Homo sapiens: one gene and its partner. The protein of the gene in region 1 interacts with the protein of each later gene in a biochemical or structural test. Each region holds a gene or a part of one and is shown in the gene's direction. Other genes may lie near its edges.

What was found.
Region 2: the proteins of APAF1 (region 1) and NUP107 form a complex in vitro, tested with the Homo sapiens proteins (one study listed by BioGRID).

Annotation. Positions count from the first base shown.
Region 1 is NC_000012.12:98,679,790-98,683,289, forward strand, and holds part of APAF1 (apoptotic protease-activating factor 1), read left to right. Parts: intron 1-487; coding exon 488-613; intron 614-3,353; coding exon 3,354-3,485; intron 3,486-3,500. UniProt on the Homo sapiens protein: Oligomeric Apaf-1 mediates the cytochrome c-dependent autocatalytic activation of pro-caspase-9 (Apaf-3), leading to the activation of caspase-3 and apoptosis. This activation requires ATP. Isoform 6 is less effective in inducing apoptosis.
Region 2 is NC_000012.12:68,735,478-68,738,977, forward strand, and holds part of NUP107 (nuclear pore complex protein Nup107), read left to right. Parts: intron 1-3,500. UniProt on the Homo sapiens protein: Plays a role in the nuclear pore complex (NPC) assembly and/or maintenance. Required for the assembly of peripheral proteins into the NPC. May anchor NUP62 to the NPC. Involved in nephrogenesis.

The DNA of each region.
Region 1 (3,500 bases):
GGCACCTGGAGCTGCCTGCCCCGCTGCAGCAGTCAGCACGTCTGTGCGCAGTGGCTGGACCCCACGCTCACTCACACACGCCTCGCTGTTCCACGCCTGACTCGCCCTTGGCAGGCTTGGGACCCAGGCTGGTAGTGTGAGCTGAATGCAGCCTGTCAGGCCAAGTGGGTGAAACAAGACCAGTGGGCCCAAGCAAAACTTGGGCAAAGGCGCCACCGGCCACAGAAGTTTCTGGCCAGAAAATCAACACCCCAAAGATCCTGTAACATTTTCATTGATATTTACAAACATGTAACAGTGAATAGTTCTCTAGTTATGTGAAGGCATACACATTCTGACAGAAATTCTGATTTTGGGAGTAGCTTTGCCAAGGTTCCTTTCTGTTTTGCAAAATGACAATGATTAAACTCACTTAAAGATTTTTATTGAATGATGACCAGTAGTTAAGCAGTTTATTATAAAAAATATTTTATTGTTACTTGTGCAGGTGTTCAAAGCTGAAACAGGAGAGAAACTTCTAGAAATCAAGGCTCATGAGGATGAAGTGCTTTGTTGTGCATTCTCTACAGATGACAGATTTATAGCAACCTGCTCAGTGGATAAAAAAGTGAAGGTAGGAAAATCTTTTCCTCTTGAGTTGTAATCACAACAGAATTCATTTTATTTTTCCATGATCATGAGACCAGAGTAAGTAGAGTTAAAGGACTCTCACCTGTTGATCTACTAACCTGATTCATTGTAAATTAACACTATCTGAAAATTCTTTACTTTTTTTTAAAGAGACAGGATTTTGCTCTGTGACCCAGGCTGGAGGGCAGTGGCATGATCATAGCTCACTGTAAACTCCAATTCCTGGGCTCAAGTGATCCTCCTGCCACAGCCTTCCAAAGTGTTAGGATTATAGGTATGAGCCACTGTGCGTGGCCTGAAAATTCTTTATTTTTAAACACCAGCAAAAATGCCTAGGTTGATCACCTCAGGATTAAACAAGCAGTGGGGAAAAGCAATGACAAATTAGTGAGTTTGTCTTCCATTAATAGACAAGTCCATGGGTTAAATATCAGTTGAAATCTTTGAGTGCATTGTGATTAGGAGTGTTGCTGCACAAACTTGGGGATTCCTGTTGTAAGATACAATTTTAAAATGCAACCCCAATTTTTTTAATTTGCTTATGAACTGGCTTATATATTCAGTGGAAAACCAGGTGGATGAACAAACTAATAATTACGTTACTGGTCTAAAAACATAAATAGAGAAAAGTAAACAGAGTAATTTTTACTTATTTATTTTGAGGCAGAGTCTTGCTCTGACACCCAGACTGGAGTGCAGTGGTACAATCTCGGCTCACTGCAATCTCTGCCTCCAGGATTCAATTGATTCTTATGCCTCAGCCTCTTGAGTAGCTGAGATCACAGGTGTGCACCACCATGCCCAGCTAATTTTTGTAGTTTTGGTAGAGACAGAGTTTTGCCATGTTGGTCAGGCTGGTATTGAACTTCTGGCCTCAAGTGATCCGCCTGCCTTTGACTCCCAAAGTGCTGAGATTATAGGCATGAGCCACTGTGCCCCGCCAGAGAGTAATTTTTATTTTTGTTAAGTATTCTCTTGTTCCTAAATTTGGCTTCTACCAGGAGCATTTATACTAATATAGAATTCAAGAGAAACTGAAGGCTTGTGGGGGTTATCACTGATATATGGAAGACAGACCTTACTTTAACCCTTTTTCAAAGGGGTTAAATCTGGAGTACTGGATGTAGCTAGGTGGAGTGGGCAAGAAATTTGCCTTGGGTGTTTTCCTGAAGTTTTCACCTACTGGAAGAGGGCTATGGAATGTCCAGACTAAATTTGAGACCTTGGAAAAATCTACCTCTTGATAGATTGGACTCGTGGCTTAACCAACAGTTAATTCACTCTGTAGTGTCTACTCTGACTCTGAGTCAGACTTGGAGGTGGCCACTGAGGGCAGTTCTAAAGTCAGAGCTACATGGAGTAAAAGGAAATAATAATGAGTTTCTGTTTTCTAAGCCAGAGGTAGAAATACCTATTAAAGAACTTTAAAATAAGATAAACTCTCTGGACCTCTGGGGATTCTAATCAGTGCTTTGATAACATACAAAGGAAATGCCAAAGGACATTAGTACCTCTAAAAAGTCAAAATCCCAGTGAAGGTTCATTAGGTAATTTATTTCTTTTGTTTGTTGTTATATGGCATAGACTGCTTAGTTGTCTTACATAGTAACTAGAATGATGATTAATTTTTTTGTTTTTTTTTTTTTTTTTTTGAGACGGAGTCTCGCTCTTTCGCCCAGGTTGAACTGCAGTGGCGCTATCTCGGCTCACTGCAAGCTCCGACTCCCGGGTTCATGCCATTCTCCTGCCTCAGCCTCCCGAGTAGCTGGGACTACAGGCGGCCGCCACCGCGCCTGGCTAATTTTTTGTATTTTTAGTAGAGACGGGGTTTCACCATGTTAGCCAGGATGGTGTTGATCTCCTGACCTCGTGATCTGCCCGCCTCGGCCTCCCAAAGTGCTGGGATTACAGGCGTGAGCCACCGCGCCCGGCCTGATGATTACTTTTTACTGAAAACTGAACACTATAAGAGGCTATAAATACTACACACTTTGTCATATTACATTATCAATTTCCTGCTACAGCTTGCAGGGTTAAGTGTCGATCCCGTTTACAGAAGAGGACGCAGATTCAGAGATGAAGTCTCTTGCTCAAGCTTACATTAAACTGGGAACAGTAATAGGGTTGAAAGCTGGGTTTCTCTCAGACTATAAAACCTTTATTTTTTTTAACTAAGCAATCTGCCTTTACTTATTTATATGGTACCTTGAAGTCCATAGAACACTTGTCATGTTCATTATCTCATTTGATATCTTAAATTGTGTGGGAGAGGTATAGATATCCCCATTTTACAGAAGAGGGAACTGAGATGCAGGTAAGTTAGGGATTTGTGACACACAAGTCATAAGTGGTAGAGCCAGCTCTTGGGCTCAACCCTTCTGACCAGAAATCTATTATGCTAACCTCTTTAAAGCACTTCTCTGCCTGCTTTCATTCATATAAACATGTGAAATCTTGCCCTTAAGAAATGTCATGTGTTCATGACACTCTAGTTATGCTATAGGTACATATATGTATATTTGCAAATAATTTTTTTTAAACATTAAGGCAAAATATTGCCATATTTTAGAAAGGGGAGAGGTTTCATTAGCATCTTGTCCAACTAGGAAAATCTGCTATGACAGGATAAGATAGCATTTGCAAAGCAATGGACATTGCTTTGCCCCTCTGTTCTCCCTTTGAAAATAATGGATATTTGTAAATTTTTTCTCTTTTCTCTTTAGATTTGGAATTCTATGACTGGGGAACTAGTACACACCTATGATGAGCACTCAGAGCAAGTCAATTGCTGCCATTTCACCAACAGTAGTCATCATCTTCTCTTAGCCACTGGGTCAAGTGACTGCTTCCTCAAAGTAAGTGTGGATATT
Region 2 (3,500 bases), about 30 Mb from region 1:
GCTAAACTGAAAATACTACCTAGGGAATGGGAATATTTGATTCTTGGATAAACTATTAGTTCACATTTACTATGTTCACAGAGGATACAAAAATCTAATTTTTAAAAAATTCTGGACCTAAAAATTTAATTATACATGTATGTCACTCCATTTACAGATATAAAGATAACTCGAGTAGTATCAGTAAGGCATAGCTAAGGTAGGGGCTCTCACCTCTGGGCTGTCCATTTTAATGACCTGGCAGACTTTTTAAAAACACTACAGGGTTCCACTCCCAGAGATTATGGTGTAATTGGTCTGAGGTAGGGCTGGGGTTTATTTTTGTTTTTTTAATCACTTGCAGTGCTTTAATATAATATATAGCCTGTGTTGAGAACCAGCTACAGAAGTATCAAGTGCCATAAGAAAGGCACAGGTTAAGTATTTTCTGAGTCCAGGAAAAGAAAAGATTGTTTTCACCTGAAAGGGAACTGGAACGTATGCTTGAAATGTATAGCATTTGACTGAATCTTGAACATACTGGTAGAATTTGGATGAGCTGAGATGGGAGAAAGGAAGGATACTGAGATAATAGTCATATAAGGGAAAGACATTGCAGCCTGACCCTGGTGCATGACAGAAACAGTGAGTAGCTTAGTTTATCCTCTGTAGACCTGAGGAGCTGTCTGAGAGCTGGAAATACTGGCTTCTTGGATATTTGATGTGTTATTTTGAACAAAGAAAACAGTAAGTGTTCTTGGTATCTTTCCTTTTGCCATTCTTCATACCCTCATCTATTTAGTACTTTTTCTTTAATTTTAGCTATTGCATTTTTTTTTTAGCCTGTCTTCTCTGACCAGAAGGAGGAAAAAGAATACAGGCAGGACAGCGAACTAAATTTGAGCCCCTATTTGCCACTATTACTGATGGAGTAATTATCTTAAATGTCTCCACTTTATTTTTTCTTTTTTTGTTTTAGAGACAAGGTCTTGCTCTATCACCCAGGCTGGAGGACAGTGGCTTCATCATAGCTCACTGCAGCCTCAAACTTCTGGGCTCAAGCAGTCCTTCTGCCTCAGCCTCCCCAGTAGCTAGGACAACAAGCACACACCACCATGCCTGGCTTTTTTGTTTGTTTGTTTTTGACACAGGATCTTGCTGTGTTGCCCAAGCTGGTCTTGAACTTCTAGCCTCAAGCTGTCCTCCCACCTTGGCCTCCTGAAGTGCTGCGATTACAGGCATGAGTCAATGTGTCGCCACCTTTTTTTTTTTTTTTTTTTTTTGAGAAAGAGTTTTGCTCTTGTCGCCCAGGCTGGAGTGCAATGGCACAATCTTGGCTCGCCTCCCAGATCCTCTTGCCTCAGCCTCCCAAGTAGCTGGGATTACAGGCATCCACCACCACACCCAGCTAATTTTTGTATTTTTAGTAGAGATGGGATCTCACCATGTTGGCCAGGCTGGTCTCGAACTCCTGACCTCAGGTGACCCACCTGCCTTGGCCTCCCAAAGTGCCTGAGATTACAGGCGTGAGCCACTGCGCCCAGCCAAGTCTCCACTTTTTATCCTAACGTTCGTAATAGAACTCCTTTGACTCGTTTTAAACCTTCCACAGGTTCCTCTGGCAAAACCTTTCTCATCTGATTCATGCTGATTCTCTTGAAGATAAAATTTTAATGTTGTAAAATGCTAATTAAGTGTCACTTAAATTTTGAAAAGACTTCAATGCTTTATTTATACATACATCTTTGCTATTCTAATTATTAATTAAGTAGATTAGGTAGTGAAAGCCACAAAATAGTCTTGGGATCTCATAAAATTAGAGTTGAGGCCAAGCGTGGTGGCTCACGCCTGTACTCCTAGCACTTTGAGAGGCTGAGGTGGGTGGATCACCTGAGGTCAGGAGCTTGAGACCAGCCTGGACAACATGGGGAAACCCCGTTTCTACTAAAAATACAAAAAAATTAGCCTGGTGTGGTGGTGCATGCCTGTAGTCCCAGCTACTAGTGAGGCAGGAGAATGGCCTGAACCCAGGAGGCAGAGGTTGCAGTGAGCCGAGATCGTGCCACTGCACTTCAGCCTAGGTGACAGAGTGAGACCCTGTCTCAAAAAAAAAAAAAAAAAAAAAATGGAGTTGAGATGGAAGGCAATGAATGATACACCATTTTGTTTCATCAGGGATTTTAAAATCAATATTCAGTCTCAATTATTTCTTTAAAACTTCAGTCTCAATTATTTCTTTAAAACTAATCCAGAAAAGAGATTTCTTGAACAGTTAAATGATTAATAACATTTTAATCACCTTTGTTGAGCCTAATACTCTTACATAGTCAATGACGTAGGGCATTGTTCAAGGCCCCTGCTAACACGTGTCACTTGTATGTGAATTAGAAAATTGTAATTCTATCTGGGAACGGTGGCTCATCCCTATAATCCCAGCACTTTTGGGAGGCCGAGGAGGGCAGATCACGTGAGGCCAGGAATTCGAGACCAGCCTGGCCAATATGGTGAAACTCCGTCTCTACTAAAAATACAAAAAATTGGCCGGGCACGGTGGCTCACGCCTGAATCCCAGCACTTTGGGAGGCCAAGGCTGGTGGATCAGAAGATCAGGAGATCAAGATCATCCTGGCCAATATGGTGAAACCCTGTCTCTACTAAAAATACAGAAAACTAGCCAGGCATGGTGGCACGTGCCTGTAGTCCCAGCTACTTGGGAGGCTGAGGCAGAAGAATCACTTGAACCTGGGAGGCGGAGGTTGCAGTGAGCCGAGATTGCGCCACTGCACTCCAGCCTGGCAACAGAGCGAGACTCTGTCTCAAAAATAAAAATAAAAATACAAAAAATTAGCCGGGTGTGGTGGCTCGCGCCTGTAATCCCAGCTACTAGGGAGGTGGAGGCAGGAGAATCGATTGAACCCAGGGAGGCGGAGGTTTCAGTGAGCCAAGATTGCGCCACTGCACTCCAGCCTGGGCAACAAAGGGAGACTCCGTCTCAAAAAAAAAAAAAAAAAATTGGAATTCCCTTCCCTTACATAGATAGGTTCCATGGCAAGTGCACACAATATGTAAGACAGAACACAGGCTAGATTTCAGCCCCACTTACTTGCTTGGCCAGCCACCCTTGTACAAGGCACGGCTGTACACAATAGCCCTAGCATTATGTGCTGTTTTCGTATAGCTACCCCTCAAGTTTTTAAATAACTGGAATAGTCCCCTTAGTGTTGGGGCTGGTGGCACAGAGGAATGGCAGAGAGAATGGAGCAGGCAGGTCATCTTTACCTACCTTTCACTACCTCTACCTCTAGCACATTCTAGTCCAAGCCTCTACTGTCTTCCGTGGCTTCTCACTGTTCTTTATACAATCGTTCCTTATACAGATGGACTAGTGACCCTTTCAGAATAAAATACATGCGACTGTCTTACCCAGAACTTTCTGATGCCTTCTTATTGCACTTGGAATAAAATCTTTCTTTTCTTGATGTACAAGAGTATACATACTTTTGTTTTGTTCTTTTTTTTTT